Homo sapiens: one gene and its partners. The main gene of each other region encodes a partner of the protein of the gene in region 4 in a complex. Each region holds a gene or a part of one and is shown on either strand. Other genes may lie near its edges. The genes, in order: TCERG1, CDC25C, MIS18A and PLK1. A codon is read from its position in the direction of its gene.

The links.
Region 1: the proteins of PLK1 (region 4) and TCERG1 are in contact, whole or in part, in a crystal structure (PDB 3Q1I), measured with the Homo sapiens proteins. Residues at the interface, in NP_005021.2 of Homo sapiens: Lys413 (codon at 209), Trp414 (codon at 206), Val415 (codon at 203), Asp416 (codon at 200), Tyr485, His489, Leu490, Leu491, Arg516, Phe534, Phe535, His538, Lys540; in NP_006697.2 of Homo sapiens: Pro101, Pro102, Pro103, Met104, Ser105, Ser106, Met107.
Region 2: the proteins of PLK1 (region 4) and CDC25C are in contact, whole or in part, in a crystal structure (PDB 3BZI), measured with the Homo sapiens proteins. Residues at the interface, in NP_005021.2 of Homo sapiens: Lys413 (codon at 209), Trp414 (codon at 206), Val415 (codon at 203), Asp416 (codon at 200), Tyr417 (codon at 197), Tyr485, Glu488, His489, Leu490, Leu491, Arg516, Phe534, His538, Lys540; in NP_001274511.1 of Homo sapiens: Leu126, Leu127, Cys128, Ser129, Thr130, Pro131, Asn132.
Region 3: the proteins of PLK1 (region 4) and MIS18A are in contact, whole or in part, in a crystal structure (PDB 8S30), measured with the Homo sapiens proteins. Residues at the interface, in NP_005021.2 of Homo sapiens: Lys413 (codon at 209), Trp414 (codon at 206), Val415 (codon at 203), Asp416 (codon at 200), Asp419 (codon at 191), Leu490, Leu491, Arg516, Asn533, Phe534, Phe535, His538, Lys540; in NP_061817.1 of Homo sapiens: Ser50 (codon at 2,849), Met51 (codon at 2,846), Trp52 (codon at 2,843), Ser53 (codon at 2,840), Ser54 (codon at 2,837), Met55 (codon at 2,834).

What each region holds. Positions count from the first base shown.
Region 1 is NC_000005.10:146,442,402-146,450,392, reverse strand, and holds the start of TCERG1 (transcription elongation regulator 1), read right to left. Parts: upstream 3,061-7,991; 5' UTR 3,044-3,060; coding exon 2,985-3,043; exon of another isoform or gene 2,895-2,984; intron 1-2,894. UniProt on the Homo sapiens protein: Transcription factor that binds RNA polymerase II and inhibits the elongation of transcripts from target promoters. Regulates transcription elongation in a TATA box-dependent manner.
Region 2 is NC_000005.10:138,328,772-138,336,664, reverse strand, and holds the start of CDC25C (M-phase inducer phosphatase 3), read left to right. Parts: upstream 1-4,860; 5' UTR 4,861-5,045; coding exon of another isoform or gene 5,046-5,070; intron 5,071-5,446; coding exon of another isoform or gene 5,447-5,484; coding exon 5,485-5,678; intron 5,679-7,017; coding exon 7,018-7,112; intron 7,113-7,893. UniProt on the Homo sapiens protein: Functions as a dosage-dependent inducer in mitotic control. Tyrosine protein phosphatase required for progression of the cell cycle. When phosphorylated, highly effective in activating G2 cells into prophase.
Region 3 is NC_000021.9:32,276,019-32,283,670, forward strand, and holds the start of MIS18A (protein Mis18-alpha), read right to left. Parts: upstream 3,032-7,652; 5' UTR 2,997-3,031; coding exon 2,663-2,996; intron 1-2,662. UniProt on the Homo sapiens protein: Required for recruitment of CENPA to centromeres and normal chromosome segregation during mitosis.
Region 4 is NC_000016.10:23,681,861-23,688,920, reverse strand, and holds part of PLK1 (serine/threonine-protein kinase PLK1), read right to left. Parts: intron 6,858-7,060; coding exon 6,764-6,857; intron 5,052-6,763; coding exon 4,832-5,051; intron 1,453-4,831; coding exon 1,297-1,452; intron 254-1,296; coding exon 176-253; intron 1-175. UniProt on the Homo sapiens protein: Serine/threonine-protein kinase that performs several important functions throughout M phase of the cell cycle, including the regulation of centrosome maturation and spindle assembly, the removal of cohesins from chromosome arms, the inactivation of anaphase-promoting complex/cyclosome (APC/C) inhibitors, and the regulation of mitotic exit and cytokinesis.

The DNA of each region.
Region 1 (7,991 bases), on a different chromosome or scaffold from region 4:
TCCTTTAAATATTTCAAGTTTATTACTTTGAAGCCTCTGCACCTGTTCTCTTTGCCGAGCATGTTCTTCCCCAGATTTTCACATAACTAGCTCCTTCTCATTACTCAGCCTCTAGTTCAAATGTCACCTCAAACTGTTTTCCCACTTCTGGCCTCTACAGGCCCTCTCAGGATCATTATTCCTAATTTGAGTTTTCGATTATGATAAATGCTATGAAGAAATCTCCCATTTACTTCTGTATTATCTTTAGCCACTAGTATATAGTTCCCTTTAGTATACTGTTGCAACACATTAAAACACATTATTGTTTTAATAATGATAGTAAAGTTCCTATATACCAGCATGGTTATACAGACATTATCCGTATTAACTCTTAATCCTCACTACAGCCCAATAAGGTAAGTTTGACACCATTTTTACAGAGGAAATGATAGCACAGAAAAATATTTTCTTAAGGCAGCTAGTCAGTGATAACACCAGAATATTCTTATTCTCATTTTATAGATAAGGAAATTTAGATTGCAAGTATCTTAAGTATTGATAGGTAAACAAAGGCTCTAGGGAAAGGATCTATACAAATGACTCTGGAAGTTACTTTAATGGTATTTGGAACGTCTATAAATTTTCCATCTATTGTGATTTGCATTCCTACCACTTACAACCTTTCTGAAAAACAAAAGCCTACTTGCATGAATAGAAGGAACAAAAATATTTCACAAGAACATCATGGAAATACAAACATAAGGTATTTTTCTACAATAGAAGTTCTCTATCCAGATATGCAATCTCCCCAATGCTAAAGACAATACTTTAACTGGAGGGGCAAGAAATAAAAAGATGCTACCGATATATGGGGGCAAATTGTATAAACTATGATTGAGGAGACCTGAGGTTTAGTCCAGACCCTGCCAACTACCCAGTGACCTTGTGTAAGTCACTTCACACTTACAGGCAGATTTAATCATTTGATGTGGTTGATTTCATTTACAATTTAGATGGCTCTTACTTAAGCTGGAAGCTCCTGCAGGACAAACCTCTTTTTTCGGTCTGGTTCAGGGCACTATTACCAGCACCTAGGTCAGCAACTGTCATGTAGCACACAATAAATGTCGGCCCAATAAGTGAAGTATCTTTAAATCTCCTATCTTCATTTATTTACAACATAACTACAGAACATCTCATTTGCCAGGCGGTTATGACAGACACACCATGAAGTACATTCAGGTTACAAATATAATGCAAAAATTAAGCCCCAACTTCTGCCATCAAAGAGGCCACATACACACCTAATTTCATGAGAAATGCTAAAATAAAGATCTGTACAGTATGCTCTGCAAGCAACTTCCAATCCAAGAGGCTACGGTATAAAATATTTGCAACAGGGCAAATTCATTTGCAAATTAAAGCTCTATTCAAATCAGTTGTGCAACAGTGTCTAGACTATTAATAAAGCCATTTGGATTTTTTTAAAGCTTTAGAAAGATACTTTCTAAAATGCAAAAGAATGTTCCCTAATAAATCCATCTGAAACTAGCTAAGTAACCTCCCTTTAAGATCGAAATCAGGAATAAACTTGGCATCGCTAATATTTAAAGATGCTGACAATTCACCTTGATCACTCATTAATACTGTATACATATGGAGTTTAAAGGATTTCAGATTCATCTCTGAAATAAAACAAAATTTCATTTCTGCCAAAGTGGAGATTTGTGTGTGCGACCATACAGAATCTGAAAGGCATTTTCCTCTTCTAAAACCTTGAATAACAATACCCATTTCCTTACACAATTTCATCTTAAGTTCAAGACAGTATCAACAGAGTCTTCATAATCTACCCTGCTCTTTTTCATTTTCAAACGTTGACAACAGCACAATTCAGAATGGGAGCTGAACATCTGAAATGCCATTTCTCCCATACAGAAAAAAACCAAAGTACCAAATACACATAAAGCATAATACCTCTTTTCCTCAAAAACCACTGACCAAAAGATTTCTCCAGGTCACTCTCATTTTACCAAATTTTAATTACAAACTCATAGACACTGAGGTTCCAGGGGAAAAAAAGGTCACTGCACTGTTCAAGGAAATGGCATGAGTAGTAGACGAATAGAACGCCAATTGGGATTGCAGGCTCTGAAACCTGACTGCCTGAGTTCAAGCCACTTCCTGGAGCCACAAATCCGCCTATGCAATCTTATTCTACTGACTCAACCTCCACGAGGCTGTTATCTCACCTGTAAGATGGGCGAGTAACAACTGAAGACCCCTCTGGTCTGTGGCCTGCAAAATGTTAATAGCAACTACTCCAAAGGGTGGTTGTGAGGATTAAATGAGACAAACCTAAGTAAAGGGTTTACTGGCACACGGTAAGTGCCTAATAAGGGGTTGCTACTGTTGTTGTTACTCACAACTACAGGATAATAAGGAATAAAGGGATGAAAAAAGGAAGAAAAGCCACAGAAGTTAAGAAAGGCAAGCAATGAGGGGGATGAAATGAAAGGGCAAACGTGGGGAGCCCAAAGAGCCGCGGAGGGCGTGGAGAAGGCTTAGCCAGAAGTGGCGAGGGGTACAGGGAAAGTAACTGCGGAGTGCAGAGACGTCGATGAGGAAAATCAGGCCCGCAGCGGAGCGCGGCCTGGGGACAGACTCAGGTCGGCCGAGACGGAGGCGACACGCGGCTGAGGCGGGGCCCAAAGGCGGGAGCACCGCGCCCGGCCAGAGGGCTGCAGGCCGCGAGAGGCGGCGAGGCCCCAAGAAAGCACTAGGAAGCAGCCAGGGAACGCGCAGGAGGCCCTGGCCCAGCCCGGGCCCGGCTCTCATTCAAGCCACCTTCCCCTTCCCCCTTCTTAAACCCCATGCGGTCCCGGCCCGGGCCGCCCGGCTCCGCTACCCACCGTCCGCCCCGGATCTCCACATGGCAGGTCTAGCGTCTAGCCTCTGGGGCTCTCGTGAGCAGAGATGTGAAGGAGGGCAGCGTTCCTTACCTGAGCTCCCCCGGGTTGAATCGTTCACTCTCGCCCCCGTCCCCGCCACGCTCCGCCATTACAGAGGGCCGCGTTCATCCACCCGCCGACCCGACGTCTCCTATTGGCTAGAAAAATCGTCAATCCCCAACGAGAGAGGCGGAGACAGCAGAAGTCTGAGATGCGGTTGGTCAAACTTTCCATCAATCTTCGAAATGGGGGCGATATGTTCTTTGCTATTGGGCAAGGCGCCCGCCGACTTTGAAAGCGGTATGAAGACAGCCAGTTGATTGGTGACTCGGGGGCTTTATGGGAAATGAGATTTTAGCAGTGAGGAACCGCCGGCGCCCTCTCGCGGTAAGCAGAACTAAGTCCTCCCAAGTTCGGCTCAGCCTGCGGTAGCCACGTGTCTGTCGGCTTCCAGGAGAGCCAATTGTGGAGCCATATTGGCCAGTAGTAGCTCAGGCGGAGAGCATTTCCACTGGGCAAGCCAATCAAAATCGACCTGGGCCGCGCCTAAACCGATTGCACAGTTGCTGTGGAAAGCCGCTATTTCCTAGCTTTACAGTAGCAGGAGTCTTAAGTCACCACTCAGCTCTATATCCATGTTATTAAATAATATATTATTAATTACAAGAATACCTCCCAAATTATACTAAACCGTTGCAAGCCAATAGGTGTTATAAGTTGCTGCATTAAGAAAGGTAAATTGGCGAAGGCAAGCCTCTTTGCAATTTACAGCTTAACCACGTCTCCCTCGATCTCAAAATGTGCTTGTCTGAAATTAGCACACCCAGAATACCAGACAATTCTGAATATTTATTTAGTTTTTCTAATTAACAAAAAAAAAAGTTTTGGATTTGGGGTTTCAAAGGCACAATGAAGATGAGCCCTTTTATTAAAGTCGTAAAAATATTAAAATAATACTAATAGATAAATTTTACTTGGACCTAACCATGTAGCAAACCCGGATCTAAGTATGTCAGGTACGTTAACTCTTTTAAGATTCAAAAATTGCTAGGAGGTGGGTAACATAGTCACTGTTTGTAGATGAGCTTGAGGCACAGAGAAGTTAAGTAACTTGCCCAAGGTCACACATCTACTAAATAGCAGAGCCTGGTCTTAACCCCAGTCAGCGTAGTAGCAAAGCAGCACTCTTAAATACTGTAAGCCTAAATAATTGGATCCACATAAAAACATGTGCACAAATGTTCACAGCAGCAATATTCATAATAGCCAAAAAGTATTGTAACAACCCAATGACCATCAGCTGATGCATGGTTAAGAAGCATGGTATAGGCCGGGCGCGGTGGCCCAAACCTGTAATCCCAGCACTTTGGGAGGCCTAGACGGGCGGATCACGAGGTCAGGAGATCAAGACCATCCTGGCTCACACGGTGAAACCCTGTCTCTACTAAAAACAAATAGCCCGGCGTGGTGGCGGGCGCCTGTAGTCCCAGCTACTCGGGAGGCTGTGGCAGGAGAATGGCGTGAACCCCGGAGGCAGAGCTTGCAGTGAGCAGAGATCGCGCCACTGCACTCCAGCCTGGGCAACAGAGCGAGACTCCGTCTCAAAAAAAAAAGAAACATGGTATAACTGTACAATGAAATATTGTTCAGACATAAAAAGCCACATACAAAAAGGCCGCCTGTTGTATGATTCCATTTACATGAAATATGATGAAATTGCATTGCATTTCAGGCAAATACATACAGACAGAAAGTAGAACAGTGGTTTCCAGGAGGTAGAGGGGAATGAGGAATTGGAAGTGACTGCTGATGGATATGGAATGTCTTTTTGGATGATAAAAATGTTCTGGAATTGGCGCTGATGGTTGCACAACTTTGTGAATATACTAAAACCCATTGAATTCTATACTATTTATTTATTTATTTACTTATTTTGAGAGGGAGTGTCACTCTGTCACCCAGGCTGGAGTGCAGTGGCATGATATCAGCTCACTGCAACCTCCGCCTCCCAGGCTCAAGCGATCCTCACACTTCAGCCTCCCAAGTAGCTCCCACAGGCCTCCGCCACCACATCCAGCTAATTTTTTATATTTTTGGTAAAGACGGGGTTTTGCCATGTTGGCCAGGCTGGTCTTGAACTCCTGAGCTGAAGTGATCTGCCCACCTTGGCCTCCCAAAGTGCTGGGATTACAGGTGTGAGCCACTGCATACAGCCAACTCGTATACTTTAAAAGGTGAATTTTATTGTATGTGAATTATATTTTAATTCAAAAACACCATTCTACACTGAATTCCAGTTAAATATTCAAAATCAATTAAATATGATAAATTGTGATAAAGGCTTCACACAGTTCTGAGCATGAGTAATTGGAGGAGAGCATGGTGAAAATTTTGTTAAAGATGTGACATTTGAGGCTGGGTGTGGTGCCACAGGCCTGTAATCCCAGCACTTTGGGAGGCCAAGGCGGGAGGACTGCTTGAGTTTAGGAGTTTGAAACCAGCCTGAGCAAAATGGTGAGACCTCACCACTACAAAAAATCAAAAATATTAGCCAGGCATTGTGGTGCATGACTGTGGTCCCAGCTACTTGACAGGCAGAGGTGGGAGGGCCGCTTGAGCCCACTTGAGTCGAGGCTACTGTGAGCTGTAATTGCAGCACCGCACTCCAGCGTGGGATACAGAGTGAGACACTGTCTTAAAAAAGAAAAAAAAAAAGGTGTGGCATTTGAACAAACTATAGTTTGACTAAAAGTTGGGAGTTAGATCCCTTTTTCAACATCAGTGTGTATCCCCAAGTTCTGGTCAATATTCTGAAAATAATACTGGTATAGATGGCTCATTACAAACTAATTCCTACTAAAAAAAGATTCAAAATAGAAAGCTTATAGAAAATAAGTCACTAGCATATATAAAAGATGAAAACAGGCCGGGCGCTGTGGCTCACGCCTGTAATTCCAGCACTTTGGGAGGCCGAGGCAGGTGGATCACCTGAGGATTTCGAGACCAGCGTGGCCAACATGGCAAAACCCCGTCTCTACTGAAAAAATACAAAAATTAGCTAGGCATGGTGGCACGTGCCTATAGTCCCAGCTACTTGGGAAGCTGAGGCAGGAGAATCGCTTAAACCTGGGAGGCAGAGGTTGCAGTGAGCTGAGATCTCGCCATTGCACTCCAGCCTGTGTGACAGAGTGAGACTTCATCTCAAATAAAAAATGAAAACAAACTGTCAGTTGAAGAAACTCCTTGCAGGTATTAAAAATTTTATTATCTGATAGTTTTTATTATGTTATTTTTATCTAAATATACTTTAAGATATTTATATTATAGTATAATCTTTTAAATAGATTAAGTATATACATATGTATATCTATCACATGTAATGATAATCATATGTGTATATATGTATATATTTCATTATTTCATTGCTATAGTGTATCCCCATAAAAATGTCCTTCAAATTCAGGTAGTTTGGCTCAATAGTTATTTATAACATATTGCAAATTTCTGACTTGAACTATGTCTACACAGCTTTTCTAGAGTGAACCATTTTATTGAATCAAAATGAAAAAGGAATTGAAGAGATTCAGTGCATCTTTTAAGAGACCAAATGGACTTTCCGATAGTCAAAGCTTGATAACTATTTGGATACTGATAATGTACACAACTATATAGAACAGAATAGCAAATACCATCCTTGCTTAATTGGTAACCATTGAATTATTGACCCCCCAAAATTAGCATATCAAGATGAAATGAAGAGAAAATGTTGGTTTCAGACAAATTAATTCATCAGGGCTTAGGTCCTGCTGTGAAGACACTCATCAGAATTGGCTCTTGAGAACTGGTTCCAATGCAGAATCAGGCTTTAAAAAAATAACTGCCATTTTTGAGCACCTATCTTAAATCCATAGGAGGTACATTACATACACTATTTCCAGTCCTTTCAACAGCCCTGCAAGGTGGATGTATTGTCCCCAATTTACAAATGAGGAAACTGAGGCTCAGACAGATGATAGGACTGATGCAAGGCGACATTCAGATAGCTGAAAAGAGGGGAAGCCAGAATTCAAACACGTGTGTGTCTAACACCAAAGCCAGTTAGAGACCACTCAATCCTGTGTCTCACCCAAATCACAATGTATCATTTCTTCCTCTTCCCTCTAGACTGTAAATGCTTTAAAAAGACTGTTTTCCTGGCTGAAGCCCCCAGCTCCTAATAACACACTTATTAACCCATAAACTGTGCAGCTATGTTATTCCTAACTGGAAATACTGGTCTTTGAAATATTTAAAGAGATCTCAGAAATAGAGAATCCCAGGCTGGATGCATCTGCTAGCTCCCTCACAGGCAGTATGGATAGAGGTTGCTAATGAGCTTCGGGGTAAATTAGGTCAGGATTCTAGTCCTGGCTCTATCAACTACTGGCTGTACAATCTTGAGCAAGTCACTTCTCACAGCTTCGACCTTTTTATTTGGAAAACAAAGAGTTGCCCTGAGATTTCATAAATGAACTATTTACCATGGCATAGGCAGCAACTAAAAATCATCAATAAGTAATATTTGTTTACAGAGTTTCTCTAGGGCTGCTATGGTCTGGATTCCTATGTTGAAATTCTTACCCACAAGGTGATTGTATTAGGATGCGAGGCCTTTGGGAGGTGACTAGGTCATGGGGGCAGAACCCTATGAATGTTACTAGAGCGCTTGTAAAAGAGGCCCAGGAGCAACCTCTCGCCCTCTTCTGCCACATGAGGTTAGAGTGAGAAGGTCGTCTGAGGAAGCTAGTTCTCACCTGACACCAAATCTGCTGGCACCTTGACCTTGGACTCTCCAGTCTCTAGAATGTGAGAAATAAATCTCTATTGTTTATGAACCACCCAGTCTATGGTATTTTGTTACAGCAGCCAGAATGGACTGAAAAACGGCATTTTGCTAGCCCGTGCTTTACTGACAAGGTCAAAATCAAGATAGGGTCCACCTTTTTGCATATATATAAGTGAGGACAATGAGATAGCCAAGAAACTAGAACTAAATAAACAATATTACTCCATGAATAG
Region 2 (7,893 bases), on a different chromosome or scaffold from region 4:
CTCAGGCTGGAGTGCACTGAGGCGATCACAGCTCACTGCAGCCTTGAACTTCTGGGCTCAAGCAATCCTTTCCATCTCAGCCTCCTGAATAGCTAGAACTACAGGGGTGTGCCACCATGCCCAGCATATTTATTTCTATTTTTGTAGAGAGAGGCGTCTTGCTATGTTGCCCAGGGTAGTCTCAAACTCCTGGCCTCAAACAATCTTCCCATCTTGGCCTCACAAAGTGCTGGGATTGGCGTGGTGTCTCACACCTGTAATCCTAGCACTTTGGGAGGCTGAGGCAGACGGATCACCTGAGGTCAGGAGTTCGAGACCAGCCTGGCAACAAAGTGAAACCCCGTCTCTACTAAAAAATACAAAAATTAGCTGGGCATTGTGGCGCCCATCTGTAATCCCAGCTACTCGGGAGGCTGAGGCAGGAGAATCGCTTGAACCGGGGAGGCAGAGATTGCAGTGAGCCGAGATTGTGCCACTGCACTCCAGCCTGGGCAACAGAATGAGACTCTGTCTCAAAAAAAAAAAAAAACAAATGAACAAAAAACGAAGTGCTGGGATTCCAGGTGTGAACCACCACACTTGACCTACATACTTTGATATATATTCTCATTTTTTCTTACAATCATCAAATGAAACAAAACCTTCTCTTTGACAAATGAAACAGCCCAAGAAGTTAAGTGACTGCCCACATGGTAGGCAAAGGTACTCTCAAAAAGCAGTCTAAAAGCCCTTGCTTTTCACCACTAAGCTGTTCACCTTTTTATTATTAATTAAATTAATAATTTAATTATTATGAATTAAATGGTTGAGTTAAAAGTAGGCATTGGCTCATTTGCAAAACATTGAAAGAAACTGAGACCCAAAACAAAACAAAAAAAACAAAACAAAAAAAAAAACCCTGCAAGTCAAGTTTCAGGCCTCATTTCAAAGGAAGGTTACATCCCCTTTCGTCATCTATAAAATGGCCTCCCAGTGCAGCCCAACACTCCTACCCATAATTAAATCTCCTTATTCCACTTTTAGTTCCCAAGGATTTTTTACTCATGTCCTGCTCTTTCCCTGCTGCCCCCTTTTTAGTCTTTTGTTCTTGAGCCACTGCTTTGAACTGCATCTTAATTATGCCCTCATGGGCCAAACCCCATCTGTGACCCTGCTCCAGTGGGTTTCAGCAAAGGATACTCTCCATCCATATTCTGAGGGCTCCAGGGCCTGGAGCCAGTCATCCAGGAGGTCATCCAAAGGAGTGGAATCCATTGGTTCTAAGACTCTTCATTCCCTGCCTAGGAAGGAACAGCCGAGTTGGAGGAACATGCACTCGATTCAGACCTTCCCTTTTCACCCAGTGAAAGCTAAACCTCTGCAAAGTGGGGAGAAGTAGGGCTAAGCCTACCAGTCATAAAAAGAACCAGGAATAGAAAACACACCCCTCAGCCCCTCTGCCCTGCAGAGGCTGGCTGGGAGGATCCCAGGAATGCAGGGCTCTTCTCCACTGCCTGATCTGGGCATCCCAGGAGTGATGGCTGTACCTCCTGTTCTTGTTTGGTGTTTCAGGGTGAAGCCCGGGCTGTCACTGTGCCCTGGCAACAACATGTATGAGTCAGACTGAGGTCAAGGTGAAGGAACACAGCTCACTGCTTATCACAGTGAATCAGGAGCCTAGATAGGGATTCCCCAAGGATGACATAGGATCAATGCCCTCAATCCAACAGAAAAAGTAAATCTTCAAATCAGATTAAACACCAAACTTCCCACCTCCCTAATATTCTTTCTTCTGGGAAGGATAACTTAGATATATTCCAACACCCTCATAAATCAAGATATAAAAGACAATATTTGACTTCCCTTTAAAATAATTCTACCATTTCACAGTTTGTATGTATGCATGTAAACTTACATGTAATTAGCTAAGTATGTTGCAATTAGCTAAGCCAGCTGGAATCATGAGGAGATAGTGAAAATGTTTGCTAGGAAAACAACCTCATTAACAAACGTAGAGCTTTTAAGAGTTTTGTTGGCTGGGCATGGTGGCTCACACCTGTAATCCCAGCACTTTGGGAGGCCGAGGTGGGTGGATTACCTCAGGTCAGGAGTTTGAGACCAGCCTGGCCAACACAGCGAAACCCTGTCTCAACTAAAAATACAAAAATTAGCCAGGTGTGGTGGCGCATGCCTGTAATCCCAGCTACTCAGGAGGCTGAGGCAAGAGAATCACTTGAACAGAGGTTGCAGTGAGCTGAGATTGCGCCATTGCACTCCAGCCTAGGCAACAAGAAAGAAACTGTCTCAAAAAAAAAAAGTTTTTTTGTTGTTGTTTTTAGGAGACAGTCTCACTATGTTGCCCAGGCTGGCCTCAAACTCCTGGGCTCAAGTGATCCTCCCAAGTAGCTGGGACTACAGGCGCACCACTGCATCTGTAAAAAGTCTTAAGGGCGGCCGGGCGCAGTGGCTCATGCCTGTAATCCCAGCACTTTGGGAGGCCGAGGTGGGTGGATCATTTGAGGTCAGGAGTTCCAGAACAGCCTGGACAATATGGTGAAACCCCACCTCTATTAAAAATACAAAAATCAGCCAGGCGTGGTGGCGGGCACCTGTAGTCCCAGCTACTCGGGAGGCTGAGGCAGGAGAATAACTTGAACCCAGGAGGCAGAGGTTGCAGTGGGCCAAGATTGCGCCACTGTACTCTAGCCCGGGAGAGAGCGAGACTCCATCTTAAAAAAAAAAAAAATACTCTTAAGAGCTAGGTGTATAAGTTCCATTTGAGAAATCTCAGAAACTTATTTTTGGGGCTAGATTTTTGGAGAATTTGTTTTAGGAATGCTGCAACTTTGTCAGAGTGCTCAGATTTTAGTATATTTCCATCACCTGACATTGAACTAAAGCCACTTGGCTGACACCTTTGTTGTGACCACCCACAACTGCACTTACTTGAGGACCTGGTGCAGAAAGCACTGGTAGCCAGGTGTGCACTTGCCATAATCTATCTGCTTTTGCCACCAATAGAGAATAACTTTGTCTCTACTTCCCACCTGCAGGGAAGTATACAATTTCCCACAAAGTGTGATTATACTGTAGTCGTCAAAGCAGATAACAACTCATCCCACACTCCCTTAATCCCCAGCCTGATTTTCAAACTCACCTGGCATAGCAAGGTTCTGTGCTAACTCCTACACTCACTGTCTGTATCCTAGAGGACAAAGAATCTTCACACATCTCCTTTCTGGGGAAGCAGGTTCTGCAGATGAAAAGGGTATTAGGATAAAAACCAGCTGGCTACACTGTGCCTCTCAGCCACTACCACCACCAAGATCCTGACAACAGACACAAGTTGCATTTTGACTTTTGTTTCTCAAAGCATGATCTGCAAGCCGTCTGCATGGGTAGCACCTGGGGGCCTTGATAATGACCCCACTTTAGACCTATCGAATTATCGTTTTTGGAGCCTACATCTTAAAGAGCTTCCAAGGTTATTTTGAACATTTTTATTATGGAAATTTTCAAATATACATTGAAGTAAGAAGTATGGGGTAATACCTTACCACGCAAAGTATGGTCGTAGGACCAGCTACCTCACCATCAGCTGGGGGCTTGTTAGAAGGGCAGAATCTTGGGCCGCAACCGCAACCCAGACATCCCGAATCAGAATCTGCATTTAGCAGGTCCTCAGGTGGTTAGTGTGCAAATTAAACCTTGAGAAGCACAGATATGATGGACCCTCCTGCCCCCATCACTCAACAGTCAGGGTCAATCTTGTATCATCAATACCTTCCCCCAGCACAGGATTATTTAAAAGCAAATCCCTAACATTAGGAATGTCTTTTTGTTTGTTTCACTCTAATGCCCAGGCTGGAGTGCAGTGGCGCAACCTCTGTCTCCCGAGTTCAAGCAGTTCTCATGCCTCAGCCTCCCAAGTAGCTGGGATTACAGGTGTGTGCCACCACAACCGGCTAAATTTTGTATTTTTAGTAGAGACGGGGTTTCATCATGTTGGCCAGGCTGGTTTTGAACCCCTGACCTCATGTAATCTGCCCGCCTCGGCCTCCCAAAGTGCTGGGATTACAGGTGTGGGCCAACGCGTCCGGCCAATAATTTATAAATATCACCTCGTCAATGTTCAAATTTTCATTAATAACCAATCTTTGAGGTCCTCTGGATTGCGATAAGGATTATACCAAGATGATTTAATTCCTCCACTTTCCCTGCAACGGAATTTCTTTTTACCCACGTGAGCTAGAGTCTCTGAGATGCTGCACACTAAAAGAAACACCAAACAAAGCTCTTGGAAGGGGCTAATGCCTCTCAGCATAAACACACACACCCGTCTCGCCCCAACACTTGCCACGCCGGCAGCAAACGCTCCATCTCCCGTGGAAGGCCAGCAAAACTTAGAAGAAAACGTCCGCGAAAACGGCACGAGAAAGAAGCGAAGAAAATGAAACGCTTACAACACCCTCCACCCAAAATAATCTCTCCTAGTATTACCCTAGTGAATGGACATCACTAGTAAGGCGCGGTTTAAATCTCCCGGGGTTCGTGGGGCTGAGGGAACGAGGAAAACAGAAAGGGTGTGGAGATTGGTGAGAGGGAGAGCCAATGATGCGCCAGGCTCCCCGTGAGGCGGAGCTTACCCCGCAGCCTGCCTAACGCTGGTGGGCCAAACACTATCCTGCTCTGGCTATGGGGCGGGGCAAGTCTTACCATTTCCAGAGCAAGCACACGCCCCCAGGTGATCTGCGAGCCCAACGATAGGCCATGAGGCCCTGGGCGCGCGCGCGGAGATTGGCTGACGCAGCTTAGAGGCGAGCGGGGATAGGTTACTGGGCTGGCGGAAGGTTTGAATGGTCAACGCCTGCGGCTGTTGATATTCTTGCTCAGAGGCCGTAACTTTGGCCTTCTGCTCAGGGAAGACTCTGAGTCCGACGTTGGCCTACCCAGTCGGAAGGCAGAGCTGCAATCTAGTTAACTACCTCCTTTCCCCTAGATTTCCTTTCATTCTGCTCAAGTCTTCGCCTGTGTCCGATCCCTATCTACTTTCTCTCCTCTTGTAGGCAAGCCTCAGACTCCAGGCTTGAGGTAAGTCCGCAGCCGTCTCCGCCACGGAATCACGGAGACCCCATTGTCCCCCTTAGGGTCCAGTCGGGCCCCCACAGACAGAGGTTGGGAGGGCCGAATGGGGACTATCGCGAGTTACGAGACCCGGGTTCTTTCTAGTCAGGAGTCTCGAGCTGTGTGGCGTGGAACAAGTCAAAATCCTCTCTTCATTCCATCTTTAAGGTCCTAAGGTTGCCTCTCGTCGGTGAATTCAGGTTCTAACCTTAAGCCAGGCTGTGAATCACCCTTCGGGGTTGCCCCTCTTCCAGTGTTGATTCGCCTGGCTGGAAAGGGTGGAGGAGTTTAGGAAAGCTGAGGGAACTGTGATGTACCGATTTAGATGACGTTTTCCTCCTAGCTAGGTTTTGTTTTTCTCCTGGTGAGAATTCGAAGACCATGTCTACGGAACTCTTCTCATCCACAAGAGAGGAAGGAAGCTCTGGCTCAGGACCCAGTTTTAGGTCTAATCAAAGGAAAATGTTAAACCTGCTCCTGGAGAGAGACACTTCCTTTACCGTCTGTCCAGATGTCCCTAGAACTCCAGTGGGCAAATTTCTTGGTGATTCTGCAAACCTAAGCATTTTGTCTGGGTAAATATACTTTTATTTTTACACTGTATTGCCTTTGCTATTTCCAAACAGTTGGGTTTGTTTGTTGGTTTGTTTTCAATTATCCCGGCTCAAAGGTCAGGCTTTAAGTCTCAACTCTGCCCTTGACTGTGTAACCCTTTTGAGTCTCACCTTCTTTTCTGTGACAAGAAATAATCTCAGCCAGGCGAGGTGGCTCATGCCTGTAATCTCCGCACTTTGGGAGGCCAAGGAGGGCGGATCGCCTGAGTCTAGGAGTTCAAGACCAGCCTGGGCAACATGGCAAGACGCCGTCTCTACAAAAAATATTAAAAGTTAGCTGAGTGTGGTGGTGTGCACCTATAGTCCCAGCAACTCGGGAGGCTGAGGTGGGAGGATTGCTTGAGCCCGGGAGGTGGAGGCTGCAGTTAGCCAAGATCGCCTCACTGCACTTCAGCCTGGGAAACAGAGTGAGACTCTATCTCAAAAAGAAAAGAAAAGACAAAGAAATAATAATCGCTTCCTATCTTACTAGGATCTTGTGAGAATCAAATGATGTGATAACTGGGAAAAGTCTTTGAAAACCGCTGCATTACGAGTCGGTCACTTTATTAGTATTAATATTAGTGTTATTGCAGTTGTACTTTGAATTCTGATCATACCATGTCTCAACTAGCAAAGAGAAGTAGTACCTGAGAAAAACTAGGGACCCCAGGGAGAAATCAAGCCTGTGTTCATAGTGCTCAGGACCGGGAATGTGGAGTCAAGATCCCCCTCGGCCAATAAACTCTGGGCCTCATTTAAAAAAAAAAAAATTATCTGTTTCAGTATGTTGGTAAGGAGAAAATAAAGTACAGATTATGGTAGTGGGAGATTTTTCTCAGCCCAGTCTGATATATTTCCCAAAAGCAATTAGATTTATTTGGACACTGTTCAGATGATCTGATAGTCATTAAGGGGTGTTTCAAATGAACAGGCTTGGCCAGGCGTTGTGGCTCACACCTGTAATCCCAGCACTTTGGAAGGCCGAGGTGGGTGGATCACCTGAGGTTAGGAGTTTAAGACCAGCCTGGCTGACATGGTGAAGCCCCATCTCTACTACAAATACAAAAATTAGCTGGGCGTGGTGGCAGGCGCCTGTGATCCCAGCTATTTGGGAGGCTGAGGCAGGAGAATCGCTTGAACCCGGGAGGCGGAGGTTGCAGTGAGCCAAGATCGTGCCACTGCACTTGAGCTGGGGGGACAGAGCAAGACTCCACTGCAAAAAAAAAAAAAAAAAAAAAAGAAGAGGATGACATGATCTTTGACTTTTAAGGATATAATAATCTAATGGGAATTTCGATGTACTATTATGTCTCAACAGAGGAACCCCAAAACGTTGCCTCGATCTTTCGAATCTTAGCAGTGGGGAGATAACTGCCACTCAGCTTACCACTTCTGCAGACCTTGATGAAACTGGTAGGGAGAAGGGAGATAAAGGCCTCAAAGGGAAGAATAACTTTTAAGGGAGAAAACAGGGAAGGAGGATAGAGACGGAAGGTGGTGAAAGTATAAAAAGAATCTGCCTAGAGAGATGGAATTTTGTGGGTAACTAGAGGATTTTTGAGAATGATTAAGCCAATGGGAAGAGAAAGATAATAACACTAATAGGAGCTACTTTGCATATGAAAATGTTAGACAAGTAGGAATATATTTTGTTGACTGATTAATGGTGGGAATGAAAGTATAGTCATTAGGATATGAGAAGTTTTGTGCCTCAGTCTAATCTCAGCAGAGGCAAAGAAACCAGCATAAAGAAATATGTTGTTGGCCAGGTGCAGTGGCTCATGCCTGTAATCCCAGCACTTTGGGAGGGCAAGGCGGGCGGGTCACGAGGTCAAGAGATCGAGACCATCCTGGCCAACATGGTGAAACCCCATCTCTACTAAAAATACAAAAGTTAGTTTGGCATGGTGGCACGTGCCTGTAGGCCCAGCTACTGGGGAGGCTGAGGCAGGAGAATCTCTTGAACCCGGGAGGTGGAGGTTGCAGTGAGCCAAGATAGCACCAATGCACTCCCGCCTGGCGACAGAGCGAGACTGCATCTCAAAAAAAAAGAAATATGTTGTCAACTAATTTTTATATGTTTTATATGAAATATTCCAAAAGGAATGTTTCATAAGTTAACCTTCCAGAATTCTAATTTCAGATTTTCTGAGTGATAACCTTTCTTTTCTACCCATAAGAAAAAAAAAAACTC
Region 3 (7,652 bases), on a different chromosome or scaffold from region 4:
CTTTAGAACAGACTACAACGCCTTGCAGTTTCTGATCTCTTCCTTCCTCCCTAAATCTTATCTTTATTCTCTTTAACCAGTCTCAAGGCTTTTGCACCAGCTGCTCAGCACCTGTCAAAAGCAAAGAGCGTGACCAAGAACTGTACCTGCAGCCAAGCTAGCATTCACTTATAAATACAGGAAAATAATCCCAGCACTTTGGGAGGCCGAGGCAGGCGGATCATGAGGTCAGGAGATCGAGACCATCCTGGCTAACATGGTGAAACCCCGTCTCTACTAAAGATACAAAAAAATTAGCGGGGTGTGGTGGCGGGAGCCTGCAGTCCCAGCTACTCAGGAGGCTGAGGCAGGAGAATAGCGTGAACCCGGGAGGTGGAGCTTGCAGTGAGCTGAGACTGCACCACTGCACTCCAGCCTGGGCAACACAGTGAGACTCTGTCTCAAAAAAAAAAAAAAAAAAAAAAAAAAGGAAAATATTTTCTAGCACATAAACTTGAAATTTTCTTGGAGATGTGGACGTGGGGAGCACTAATGATTAATCAAACAATTCAGGAATGAAAAAGCTATTAAGAAGCTTTTTTATGTTAATGAGTACTGGAGTTGGGAAAACAATTTATATAAACTTTATAGGATTGGGTGCTGTAACTCACATCTGTACTCCCAGCACTTTAGGAGGCCGAAGCAGGGGATTGCTTGGGGCCAGGAGTTTGAGATCAGCCTGAGCAACATAGCAAGACTCTGTCTCTACAAAAAATTTAAAGATTAGCCAGGTGTTAGTGTGTATCTGTAGTCCCAAGCTACTTGGGAAGCTGAGCCGGGAGGATAGTTTGAGCAGGCGTTCAAGGTTACATACAGTGAGCTATGATTGCGCCACTGTACTCCAACCTGGGCAACAGAGGGCTGTTAACCCACTATAACCCTATTAAAAAAAAACCTATTAAATAAATAATCCTATTTTAAAAAATCATAGTTAGGCTGTTATAGCTACAGAACAGAATGTAAATGTACAGAATGTAAATGTATAAACCTTGACAAAATGAAAATAATTAAACTAATTCAAATTGGGTAAGGAAGGAATGGAAATGAATCCGAGTTCATTTATTTGTCTTTACTGGGGGGTGTGGGGAGGTGTTAAATCCTATTATCTAAATCTGATAAATCAAAAAATGTATAGTTCTTTAAATTTTAAACTACTATTTTAGAACTATGTTTTAAATTTAAAAGCTATTGTTATAAAAATTAAATAACAAAAACAGTCTTTCTATAAGTAACGCAAAACAACGAAAAGAGCCCACATGGCAAAAAATACACTCTATCGAAACAAACAAATAAAATGAAAGATGTAACATCAAACACGTTATTCCTTAAAAACATGTAAACAAGGGAATCTCATTCAAACAAAGAGCTTTTCCTACCTAACCAAAAATCTGCTTTTTTCTTTTTTTTCTTTTTTGAGACGTTGTCTCGCTCTGTCTCCAGGCTGGAGTGCAGTGGCGCAATCTCGGCCCACTGCAACCTCCGCCTCCCGGGTTCAAGTGATTCTCCTGCCTCAGCCTCCGGAGTGGCTAGGATTACAGGCGCACACCACCATGCCCGGCTAATTTTTTATTTTGGCGAGGCTGATCTGGAATTTTTGTATTTTTAGTAGAGATGGGGTTTCATTCACCATGTTGGCAAGGATGGTCTCAATCTCCGGATCTCGTGATCCGCCCACTTCGGCCTCCCAAAGTGCTGGGATTACAGGCCTGAGGCACCGCGCTCGGCCTGGTTTGATTTTGATAGGTGCAAAGAGTTAATCTCAACTTTCAGTTAACTACTGGACACTGGTGTGCTCCTTTATTCCCAGTATTACACCAAGGAAAACGTTCCAGAAACGTCGATAAGCCGGTGGTGAATTACTGCCATCGGAACATTTACGGCATTCAAAGACAGAAAAAACTTCATCTTGAAAAATCACAATCCAAAAACAACAGCCATTCTTACACCAATTCATAAAAAATATGTGAACCACTTTATCCCTAAATACTGCAAAAACATCAAAATGAGGGAACAGTGGAACAACAGAGGTAAGAGGTAACTGCTAGAACCAGGATTAGAAACTAATTCCTGCCTTCTTCTGAACTCTTTTGCTACATCCTCCTTCCTCGCCAGTTTTCATGGGGTTGTTGGTGCTTTTATTGCAAGTTTCCTTCCCTTTCTTCCCTATAGCACTGTGTTCCGTCAACTCTGCGGCTCTATCACTGGAGGCTGTAGAGGCATCCGCTGATACACCAACAGCCTGCTAATTTCTATGGGGAGTAATAGTACTGGCTGCACCTCAAGTGCTTACAGTCTAGTTGACCATTTGTTTCTCTTTTTTTAGGGTCTTTAAAAGTGTTATTCTTTGTCGCCCTTTGTTTCTGAGTAATGCTCACGATGATGCTGATTCAACCACTGCTCTTCTGGGATCGGGGACCCCAGAAAAGAACCCACCGCCCGAGAGCCAAAGTGGAGGGGTGACCCTCCTCCCCTTTTCCTGCCACAGCTCACACTCTCAGACTTTTTGCTCTTAAAGTCCCTGGGCAGCCCCAAGGAGCCCCCGCCTCCTCCCGGGCCGCCCACGCGCGGCACCCCTGGAAGAAGGCGACCCCACGCCCCCCCTGCCCGGCTCGACCCAACTGACAGCGAAGCAGGATGCAGTTGGTGTCCTCCTGGCTGGCCACCCAGCTCAGCGAGTCGCCCAGCGGCCGCCGGCAGCCGGAGCACAGGAACACCAGCGGCCTCTCCTCCGCAGCCGCCGCCTCCTCCTCCAGCTGCGCCCTCTCCATGTCGGCCACCGACGCGTCTTCGCTCATGGAGCTCCACATGCTCGCCCACTTCTGCAACAGCTGGTGGCGGCTCGAGTCTTCGGAGAGTCTCTTGCCCAACAGCGAGGAGTCGCTGCATTTGCCCTTGTCGCCGCACTCACAGCCGCCAGCGCATCCTCTGCTACACCTCAGTGACCGAACGCCTGCCATTACCTACAAATCGCCCGCGCCCCAGAGCGCCATGGGAAAAAAAACCGCCGCTGCTCATGCGCGGGGCGGGGAGCGGTGGCGGAGGCCGAGAAGGGGCAAAAGCCTGAAGGGGGCGGGACGGCGGGCGGCCTCTAGTGCGCATGCGCGCCGTGCGGCCTTGGCCAAGCGTGATAGTCACTGCGCCTGCGTCAGGTTTTCCAGCCTGAAGAAATTGATGATGCAGACCTGTTTGCTTGTCTTCCTAAGGATTATTCACCCCTTTCCGTGGGAGGGGCAGCGTCACTGAGAAAGTTACGGGTTGCAAGCTTGAGTGTCTAAGAACCGCCTGGCGAGCTTCTTAAGCAGATCGCCAGGTTCCATCTTCGCAGACTCTGGTTCAGCAGGTAGCAGGTTAGCCCGAGAATCTGCATTTCTAACAAGCTCCTAGGCGTGCCCACGCTGTCAGTATTGGCAGCCCAACCTTTTTTGGGGGGTGGGGGGGGGAGTTTTTCTATGTTGCCGGTCTCGAACTCCTAGCCTTAAGCGATCTTCCCTACTCGGCCTCCCAAAATGCCAGGATCGCAAGCGTAAGCCACTGTGCCAGACCACCACCCTTTTTCTTCTTTTTTGTAAGTGGACTAATTATAGTTGTATATAAGCAGCTCCACTTTTGATGACCACTGCTCTATTTTGTCGGCTCCTGGGGACCTCCTTTCCATGAAGTGGAGAAGGAAGGGGATAGAGGAGTCCCTCATCACAGGGTCCTTTTGCGCACTGCTATCCCTGGAATGAGACCCTGGGAAGGGCCCCGGATCACTCAGGCTGTCACTGCAAGGAAAAAGTTGAGGAAGCAGCAGTGCCCCTGGAAAGCCTGGAAGTGTCCCTGCTGCTTGGATCAAGGAACAATTCGTCCTTGCAAGGAAGAAGCATCCCTTGTTGATGATAAGGACAGATTTCCTCAGCTGCCCCAGAAAGCCAGCCTCTGCCTAAAACACCGTAGGTCAGGAGGGAAAGCTGGCGGGGAACCAGCCAGCTGCACCACAGACAGTCTGGTGGTATACCTGGGAAGAAAGCTACCTGCAAGGACCTACTCTGTTCCTACTACGCTCTGGGTGTCCCCCAAGTCACTGCCTATTTTGCTTGGTTGCATAAACTATTTATGTAAATGTACTTCCAATTTTAGTGCTTACAGCCACTAGCAAAAAGCAAAAGCTTTGGAGTCAGTGGTCCTGGTTAACTTACCCCTCCCTCCACAAGGTAGTAACAGTGTAGGGAACTGTGGAAAAGGCTGTTTGCCTTCCCTGAGTCTAATTCTTCATGGAGTAAATGGAGTCTGTTTCTTCAGTACTACACCAAGTTGTTCATGAGGATCGAGTTTTCTAATATTCATGAAAATACTTTGTAAACCCTGGCACACCATGCTCATGTTAATCACCTTCTTACTGGAAGAAAATGCTTTAGATAATTTAGGCTTTTTTTTTTTACCCATAGAATTCCCTTCCTTCCTTCTGCTTTTTTTTTTCTTTTCTTTATTTTTTCAGAGATGATGTTTCAGTATGTTGCCCAGGCTGGTCTCGAACTCCTGGCCTCAAGCGATCCTCCTGCCTCAGCCTCCCAAGTAGCTGGAACTACAGGCATGCCTCACCATACTTTGCCCCTTCTACTTTTGTAGAGCCAAGCCTGACCTTCCTGGACTGTTGTTTTCAAGCATAATATCTCTGGTACAACATTGATACAATCCACATGAGTTCTTTAAGTAAGTGGCTAGTTACTTGGGGATTCAAAGGATCATCTTGTCTCAGACTTTGGGTTCCTATTGTCAATACTTAAATTCTATGATAGGATGCCCCAGGAAAGAAGGAATACAAGGCCGAGCTGCGTGGTGACTTTCAGGGGCCCTATTTTTGCCTTAGTAGGCCTTTCTCTCCATAAAACAGTTAATAAAAATTTCATTTTATAGTCACATTGCTATGAAGATGATTATATTAAAATGATATCATAAAACATTTTTAGACCTGTAAGTTCATTTATTGCTCTTGATTAAAAAAATTGAAACATTTTCATGGTCCTTCAGAATATCATGGTTTGTAGGCATGATGCCTCCTGCACATCATGGAGAAGTTGGCTGATGCAAAATGAATTCCTCTATAGGCACAAGTGTGTTTGTATTAATATTATGAATATAAAAACAAGGCTAGCCATGGTGGCTCATGCCTGTAACCCCGGCACTTTGGGAGGCTGAAGCGAGAGAGTCACTTGAGCCCAGGAGTTTGAGAACAACCTGGGCAACATAGAGAGACCCTGTCTCTACAAAGATTTCAAAATTAGCCAGGCATGGTGGTGCGCCCCTGTAGTCCCAGTTGCTTGTGAGGCTGAGGCAGGAGGATGGGTTGGGCTTGGGAGGTCGAGGCTGCAGTAAGCTGTGATTATGCTATTGCACTCCAGCCTGGGTGACAGAATGAGATCCTGTCTCAAAAAAATAAAAAACAAAACAAAACCTCAGCTAACCACAAAATCATCATATTTATGGGAGGACAAAATGAGATGCTTGAAAAAGATGACCTCGTAGTTTGTGGTTGTGGTTGCTTCCTAAACTACATTCTCACCGTACTTCCTAGTTATCTAACTAGGAGATTTGGATAAGGTTGAGTCCATCTCCACCACTCTCACCACCAGTTCCGGGAATGAGTCCCTAGAGGTTTAACCCGATCAATCAGGATGACCATGACTCTTCCATAGCGATTGGGGCAGGGATGGCACCTACCCCTGGCGACCCGTGCTGCTCCCCTGGCAATAGGGATTGGCTCAGAATAAAAACTTGGCCTTGTCAAGTTCAATTTTGCCCAATCTGAGTAAGGGAATCACAGAGAAACAGCACCCAATCTCTAGATCCTTCCAGTTGTGTGAGCCAACCAGTTCCAGTTATTGTGGAAGCCAGTTTCAATTGTTGTTTTGTTTTTACTAGCAACCAAAAATGTATGTAGCAATCTGTTACAGTATGTTAAAATTGAAGTTTCCACTAAGACTCCAAGATGAAGTAAAAATGAGATATCAAAGTGTGTGTGAGAGAGATTGCCCTCCTTCCTGGGGGAATCTTCAGAGTAGATTTAGGAGAGATGATTTCCTCCTGCTTATTATTATTTTTTTTTTTTTTGGAGTCTCACTCTGTCACTCAGGCTGGAGTGCAGTGACATGATCTCAGCTCACTGCAACCTCCACCTCCCAGGTTCAAGGGATTCTCCCACCTCAGCCTCCCGAGTAGCTGGGATTACAGGCACGTGCCACCACACCCAGCTAATCTTTGTATTTTTAGTAGAGACGGGGCTTTACCATGTTGACCAGGCTGGTCTTGAACTCCTGACCTCAGGTAATCCACCCACCTCGACCTCCCAAAGTGCTGGGATTACAGGCATGGGCCACCATGCTAGCTGATTTCCTCCTTCTCTTAAACACCTCTCTCACACACTTTGGGAATATAAAGGAAGGGAGAAAATCGTGACCAAGATGACTTCACTGGAAGGATCTCTTTGGAGATGGGCCCCTCCCCAATAGAGAAAATGAGGGTATCTGCCTCCTTGCCTCAATTTGGCTGATAAGAGACTTTGAGGAGACACTTACATACCTGTTGGTTCCCAGGCACTTGGGGACAGGGTGACCTGCAGGAGCGTCAAGCTGCGTGTGTTTTGGTAGCACAACAAAGGCAAACAAGGTAGGTTGTCAGCCAGATCGGAACTTTGCTGGCAGGATGTCACCTAGAGTCTTAATTTCTGCCTAAGGAGCTAACCTGGAAGCACGAAGACTCCCCAGTGGTGAGTCAAGTGTGAACAGCACTCCTGGAGAACCAGGGCAGAGGGAAAGCCAGCCTGAGATGAGGCCTTGCCCAGTGGGTCATGGGCATGCACTGGGATTTGGGATGTGCAGGGAGTCCCCGAGGGGACTAGGAGAGAGGGTCAGGTCTAACTAGATCTTACCTAAGAGTGCAAAACAAAGTTAGAACAAGTTCAAGTGTGTATTAGTCCGTTCTCATGCTGCTATAAAGAACTACTTGAGACTGGGTAACTTATAAAGGAAAGAGGTTTAACTGACTCACAGTTCTGCATGGCTTGGGGAGGCCTCAGGAAACTTGCAATCATGGCGGAAGACAAAGGGGAAGCAAAGCACGTCTTACGTGGCAGCAGGAGAGAGAGAGAGCAAGCCAAGGGGAGGTGCCACACTTTAAAACCACCAGATCTCGTGAGAACTCACTATCATGAGAACAGCCTGGGGGAACTGCCCCCATGATCCAATTACTCCCACCACGCCCCTCCCTCAACACATGGAGATTGCAATTCAAGATGAGATTTGGGTGGGAACACAGAGCCAAACCATATCAAAGTGAAAACTGTCCTATCCCCCACTTTCCCCATCTCAGGCTAGGCAGAAATGAAAACCGCAGGGAACAGGTGAGGTGGGAAAGAGCAGGGCCAGCCACAGCCCCTTCCCCACCTGAGGCAGGGAAGGCTAAGGCGGCCTATGTCCTACCTGGGGCAAAGGGAAAACAGTTCTCATCCTGTAGTGAAGATTGCCATGTTGATTAGTATCTTGGACTGACGCTACCATTTCTTCACTGGGATTCTGTTTGCAATGAAAGTGCCTACAGAATTGTCTATTCCCTAAGAGGACCTTAGAAGAACACAG
Region 4 (7,060 bases):
AAAAAAAAAAGCTGGGGAGTCAGGGAGCACTGGGAGCTGGAACTGGGAGGCCTGGGATGGAGAGAGGAGGGCACTGAGAACAGTACCTGGGAGCTCAAAAAGGCCAGAGTCTGTAACAACTGAAAAGGTCACCTGGCTGTGCCTGAGTCACCCACCTGTTCTGGAAGAAACCTACCAAGGCCGTACTTGTCCGAATAGTCCACCCACTTGCTGACCCAGAAGATGGGGATGCAGGCAGGATCCTCAGCCTCCTCTGAGACAGAAACAGACAGACAGTTAGTTGGTCAGGACCAGCCTCTTCCCCTCTGCTCCACACATGTGGCCCACACCAGGGAACAGGGAAGCCTGCTGGGCACCCCACCTGGGCTCAGTTGAGAGGCCTAGGGCCCCAGAGAAGAGCAAAGCAGGGCCTCTGCTGCCAGCAGGCTCAGACAAGCAGCAGCACAGATATCTCTGCAGAGAAAGTCTCAGCACAGCGCACCAAGTTCCACTCACTCCTTCATTCCACTGACCCATTTACTGAAGGCCTACCGTGCCAGGCACTGTTGCAGGTTCAGTGAGCAACAGACAAAACCCCAGCCTCCACGGAGCTTACACTGTGGTTGTAGGGGCAAAGACTAATCAATTTAAGTATGGGCAAAATATCAGTGACTTCTATCATGGTAAGAGTCAGAGGCATCTAGTTTTCCAGTTTGGAGTAATTAAGAAACTGTGAAGACAGAAGCCAGTTGCAAACACATCAAAATGTTACGTTCAGTGCATGCAACAAACCCCTTAATTTAAATCCAATAAACAAAGAAGGACATGTTGGACTATGTTGGGTGAGAAGTGTTATGGAGAACTATGCAGTGGGCAAGAGGATGAGAAGCACCAGCAGAGGGGCCAGGGAGATGCTCACAGAGCTGACACTGGAGCAGACACTTGAAGGAGGCCACAGTGTGAGCCATGTGGTGTCTGGAAGAAGTGCTTTCGTGCCAGGACCAGGGAGAAAGCCCTGAGGCTGCAGTACATCTGGGTCTGTTATTTCAAGGGTCTTGAAGATACAATAGGAACTTACTGAGCAAAAGAAACAGCGTATGAAGGTGGCACATCGAGGTGCTAGAGTAAAAAAGACGGATCAGAAAAGGCGGCAGGAGCCACGGAAGCAGGGCCTTGGATATCAGGAAATGGGGAAACCAATGGTCCTATGCAGACAGGGCCTGAACAAGTCACCAGTGCTTTGTTGGCCAAGCCTCCTCCTGCCTTTTCCAGATGCCCCAAGCAATCCTGCCCCGCCCAGGGCCCCGCAGTACCCACCTTGCCTGACCAGCCCACGCTCCGAGGGCTTGGAGGCATTGACACTGTGCAGCTGCTGCAGCATGTCACTGAGGTGGCAGTCGACCACCTCACCTGTCTCTCGAACCACTGGTTCTTCTTTTTCCCGGGGACGCTCAGGCAGGGGGTTCTCCAAGCCTAGGAAGGTGACAAAAACAGGGGCGTTGGGAAGGGCACGGGACTCCCCTGCCACAGCTGAAACTCTTCCGAAAGAAAAATTCTCTTAGCTACCACTGCTTTGGGGAAACTGAATCAGTGCCTGGTTACTAGAGCAGCAGCTGCCATGCTCAGGTGACAGGCACATAGTGCTCACTGTGAGGCAACAGATCTTCAGAAGCCGTGGCCTCTGACCCAACGGTGTGGCCCTGCAGGATGACCTGCCACTCAGGCAAACAGCTTGAAGGCACCAGCAGCTCAGAGCTGCCCAGCTTTGAGCAAAGAATGGAAAGCATCTTCAGCATCCAGGCAGATGGAAGGGCTGAGTAGTTCAGTTCATCCACAGAATGGATTCAGTAGGCATTTAAATAAAAACACAAGAAATTTTTTTCCACCCCAAAATTTGCTTTATATGCTTATTTATAACCAAAAAAGCTTGAAAAGATAACATGAAATTTTAACGCTGATTATATCTGGGCAGTAGAAACACAGATTATTCTTATTGTCTTTTTCCTTATTTATTTATTCCCCCACCACCATGTGCTAATTCTCCTTGTATAATATAAAATGTTTAAGTTTTCAATTAAAAAACGATGTCATGATAGGGACTTGGGTATGAAATAATAAGATATTAGGGATTTGCTTTAAACACTCCAGCAAGGCCAGGCCCAGTGGCTCACACTTGTAATCCCAACACTATGAGAGACCGAGGCAGGTAGATTGTTTGAGCTCAGGAGTTTGAGACCAGCCTGAGCAACATGGCAAAACCCTGTCTTTACTAAAAATACAGAAACTAGCTGGACATGGTGGCACACCTGTAGTCCTAGCTACTTGGGAGGCTGAGGTGGGAGAGTCACTTGAACGCAGGAGGTGGAGGCTGCAGTGAGCCATGATCTTGCCACAGCACTCCAGCCTGGGCAACAAAGCAAGAATGTCTCAAATAAATAATAATAAATAGTAAATAATAATTTTTTAAAACACCGGTAACAAAAAAGGCAGGAGGCTGGAATAAATAAAACAGTCTGTCCAAATGTTGATAACTAGTAAAAATAGATGAAACATGGGACTCATCATACAGTTCTCTCCACCTTCGGGTAACTGAAAATTTCCTTAAGTTTTTAAAATGCTATATAAAAAATTAAAACTGAAAGAAAAAAAGTAGGAGTCTGAGGCAGGAGGATCACTTGAGCTCAGGAGTTTGAGACCAGTGTGGGCAAGACCTCATCTCTACCAAAAATTTAAAAATTGGTCAGACGCGGTGGCACATGCCTAAAGTCTCAACTACTTGGGAGGCTGAGGCTGGAGGATCACTTGAGCCCAGGAGATCAAAGCTACTGTGAGGTACGACTGTGCCACTGCACTCCAGCCCGGGAGACAGAGCAAGACCCTGTCTCAAATTTAAAAAAATAAATAAAAGCAGAGAAATAAGTAATCCTTTAAAATATAGCCCAAAGAATAAAAATATCCATGAGTCTATTTCAGACATAACCAAATAAATAAATCAATCGGAGAGAAGGAACAGCTCTTCCTTACAGAAGAATTCCAATTATTAAATGCAAAAAAAGTGAGGAAAAGAAAAATTACCATTAGAACATCATTCTAGGCAGGGCACAGTGGCTCACACCTGTAAATCCTAACACTTTGGGAGGCCGAGGAGGATCACTTGAGGGCAGGAGTTTGAGATAAGCCTGGTCGACATAGTGAGATCTTGTCTTTACAAAAAAAAAATTTTTTTTTTTTTTTGAGACAGAGTCTCGCTCTGTTGCCCAGGCTGGAGTGCAGTGGTGAGACCTCGGCTCACTGCAACCTCCGCCTTCCAGGTTCAAGTGATTCTTGTGCCTCAGTGTCCCGAGTAGCTGAGATTACAGGTGCACACCACCACGCCCGGCTAGTCTTTTGTATTTTTAGTAGAGACAGCGTTTCGCCATGTTGCCCAGGCTGATCTCGAACTCCTGAGCTCGGGCAATCCACCCACCTCGGCCTCCCAAAGAAAAAAATTTTTTAATTAGCTGGGTATGGTGGCACATGCCTGTAGTCCTAGCTACTCTGGAGGGTAAGGCAGGGGGACTGTTTGAGCCCAGGATGTTGGGGCTGCAGTAAGCTATGAGTGAGCCACTGCATTCCAGCCTGGGTGACAGCAAGTCCTGAGACCTGTCTCAAAAAAAATTCCACTGTAATAATTGCTGCAAGGTATGTAGGAACTCTGGGGAGTTTTTTGTTGTTGTTGCAACTTTTCTGTATAAGCCTAAAATTATTCCAAAATGAAGTTTAAGAAAAACCAATACCTAAAAATTGAAAACTGAAAAATGAACTGAAGTTGTACATCAAATTGGTGATATATCCACAGAGAAAAAAAGTATTTCAAGTGACTTTTTAAAACTATGTATCCTTAGTGAAATCGAGATCATACCACTCCCCTCCAGCCTAGGAGACAGAGCCAGACCCTGTCTCAAAAAAAAAAAAAAAAAAAAAAAAAAAAAAAAAAAAAAAAAAGGCCGGGCCTGGTGGTTCACGCCTGTAATCTCAGCCCTTTGGGAGGCCGAGGCAGGCGGATCACGAGGTCAGGAGATTGAGACCATCCTGGCTAACACAGTGAAACCCCGTCTCTACTAAAAGATACAAAAAAACAGCCGGGCATGGTGGTGGGCGCCTGTAGTCCCAGCTACTCAGGAGGCTGAGGCAGGAGAACGGCGTGAACCCGGGAGGCAGAGCTTGCAGTGAGCCGGGATCACGCCACAAAAAAAAGGAAATTTTTATGTTTTTCAATGAATCATGAAAAAGTGTTAGAAATTTTTTTAAAGGCCAGATGTAGCAGCTCATGCCTGTCATCCCAACACTTTGGTGGAGGTGAAAGGATCGCTTGAGCCCAGGAGTTCCAAGACCAGCCTGGGCAACATGGCAAAACACTGTCTCTACAAAAATTAGAAAAGTCAGCCAGGCATGGTGGTGCATGCCTGACAGTCCCAGCTACTTGGGAGGCTGAGATGGGAGGATCAATTGAGCCCTAGAGTTGAAAGCTGCAGTGAGCTGTGATTGTGCCTCTGCACTCCAACCTGGAAAATAGAGGAGAGACCCTGTCTCCAAAAAATTAAATTAATTAAAGTGATTTGAAAGAATTTTTCAGGCTTGGCATTCAATCCATTTTCTTCTTCTTGGGCATGGTACGTTTATCCAGCCATGGTAAGGTCAGTCTTTCCTGGCAGGGCCGAGAAGCAGATGGGCATTGGAACCACGGATTGAAGGACAGAGGCCTGTCCTACTCCACACCTGAGCTCTCAGGGCCAGGGACTAAGCTGCACACACCCCTACAACCTGGGCTTTCTCTGGGGGGTCTGCTCTCTTACCCAGACCCTTGTTGTACCTTTATTGAGGACTGTGAGGGGCTTCCGGTTGCTGGGGTCCAGGCTGCTGGGAGCAATCGAAAACCTTGGTGGAATGGTCAGGCAGGTGATGGGGAGACGGGCAGGGATATAGCCAGAAGTAAAGAACTCGTCATTAAGCAGCTCGTTAATGGTTGGGCGGGCAGTGGGATCTGTCTGAAGCATCTTCTGGATGAGGGAGGCGGCCACGGGGTTGATGTGCTGGGGCAGAGAGAGGGACAGCCATAAGCAGAATGTGAAGGGGACCTGGAGTACAGTACGGCCTCAAAGGAGCTGCAGGTCCCCAGCCCACATGCAGCCCCCAGTCTCAAATACACCACAGGTCAGTGGTTCACAACTTGGTTCAATGCCAAGTTCTCCACTGTCAGCTTTACTGAGCACCATTGACAGAAGGGTCAATGGACTGTGGCCGAACACCAACTCACTTTCCTAGCACTCACTATGTGCCAGGAAAGCATTCTAAGCACTCCTGTGTTTAGCTCACTTAGCCCTCACCAACTCATCTAAGGGGTGGGGATCTATTATCATCCCTTTTTCACAGAGGAGGAAAGTGAGGCACAGAGAGGGTGAAGGCCTTGTCTAGCTGGCTTGATTCCATGCTGTCTCTGACAGTGAACTGACACTTTGTGATGGATTTACTATGTCTGTCCTTATGGTGACAGGCCTCCTGGCTTCACACAAGGACACTACACTTCAAACTGGCTGTGTGCTAGGCTTCTGCAGGAACCAGCTATTCCTTTAAATGTATTTCTGTTGGTGGTTGTGAAAATGCACACCATGGCCGGGCGCGGTGGCTCACGCCTGTAATCTCAGCACTTAGGGAGTCCGAAGCAGGTGGATCACAAGGTCAGGAGATCGAGACCATCCTGGCTAACACGGTCAAACCCTGTCTCTACCACAAATACAGAAAAAAGAAGCCGGGCATGGTGGCTGGTGCCTGTAGTTCCAGCTACTCAGGAGGCTGAGGCGGGAGAATGCCATGAACCTGGGAGGCAGAGCTTGCAGTGAGCCGAGATTGTACCACTGCATTCCAGCCTGGGCGACAGAGCGAGACTCCATCTCAAAAAAAAAAAAAAAAAAAAAAAGAAAATGCACACAACTATGCCATTAGGAAGCCCTGGGATTCACAGTGATTCATAATTCTGAGAGCACTCACCACATGCAAGGCACTCTGTGAGGTGCTCCAAGGCAGGAACTCCACTTTATATATGGAAACTATGGTTCAGAAGATGCAGGCCAGGCTGGGTATGGTGGCTCACGCCTGTAATCCCAGCACTTTGGGAGGCCAAGGCGGGTGGATCACCTGAGGTCAGGAGTTCGAGACCAGCCTGGCCAACATGGTGAAACCCCGTCTCTACTAAAAATACAAAAAAAAAAAAAAAAAGCCAGGCGAGGTGGTGGGTGCCTGTAATCCCAGCTACTTGGGAGGCTGAGGCAGGAGAATCGCTTGAACCTGGGAGGTGGAGGTTGCAGTGAGTCAAGATCATGCCACTGCACTGGGCAACAAGAGCAAAACTCCACCTCAAATAAAAAAAAAAAAAAAAAAGATGCAGGCCATTTGCCCAATGTGATCTCGCTAAGTGGCAGAATCCATTTGAATTAAGATAAACCATTTCTAAAGATTAAGCACTTTTGCCTCCTACTCCTTCCTACCTCCTTTGTTTTTTGCTTTTTACACAACTTTTGGGTTACCCAATCTCTTGAGAATCTGCCAACTCTCTCCCCCTAGAAAAAATGCTTATGTGCACATACATGTCAAGTTCTGTATGCAATTTCAGACACAGGCCCTCTCAAGCTCTGTGGCTACCTTAGAGGTGGGATAGACCTATTTCTGGTCCTAGGATATTGCTGGGCTCCATAAACAGCTTCTGGGGAAAACAAAATAAATGTAAACTTAAAGCATCATTAGTCACCTTGGGAATACTGTATTCATTCTTCTTGATCCGGAGGTAGGTCTCTTTTAGGCAAGAAGTCTCAAAAGGTGGTTTGCCCACTAACAAGGTATACCTGTAAGCACAAGGTAGGATTTGGCACCAGTCTCCCAGCCACAACCCAGACATGAGAGAAATCATCTCAGGGTCAGAACAAAGGTCAGGCATCCTCTGGACACTCACTCTAACTCTGGGGCCCCTGAAGACAATCCCTAAGTCCACTGAGCAGCCCCAGAAGCCATGACATTGGCTAGAATAAGCCCTCAGCAGAATACACAT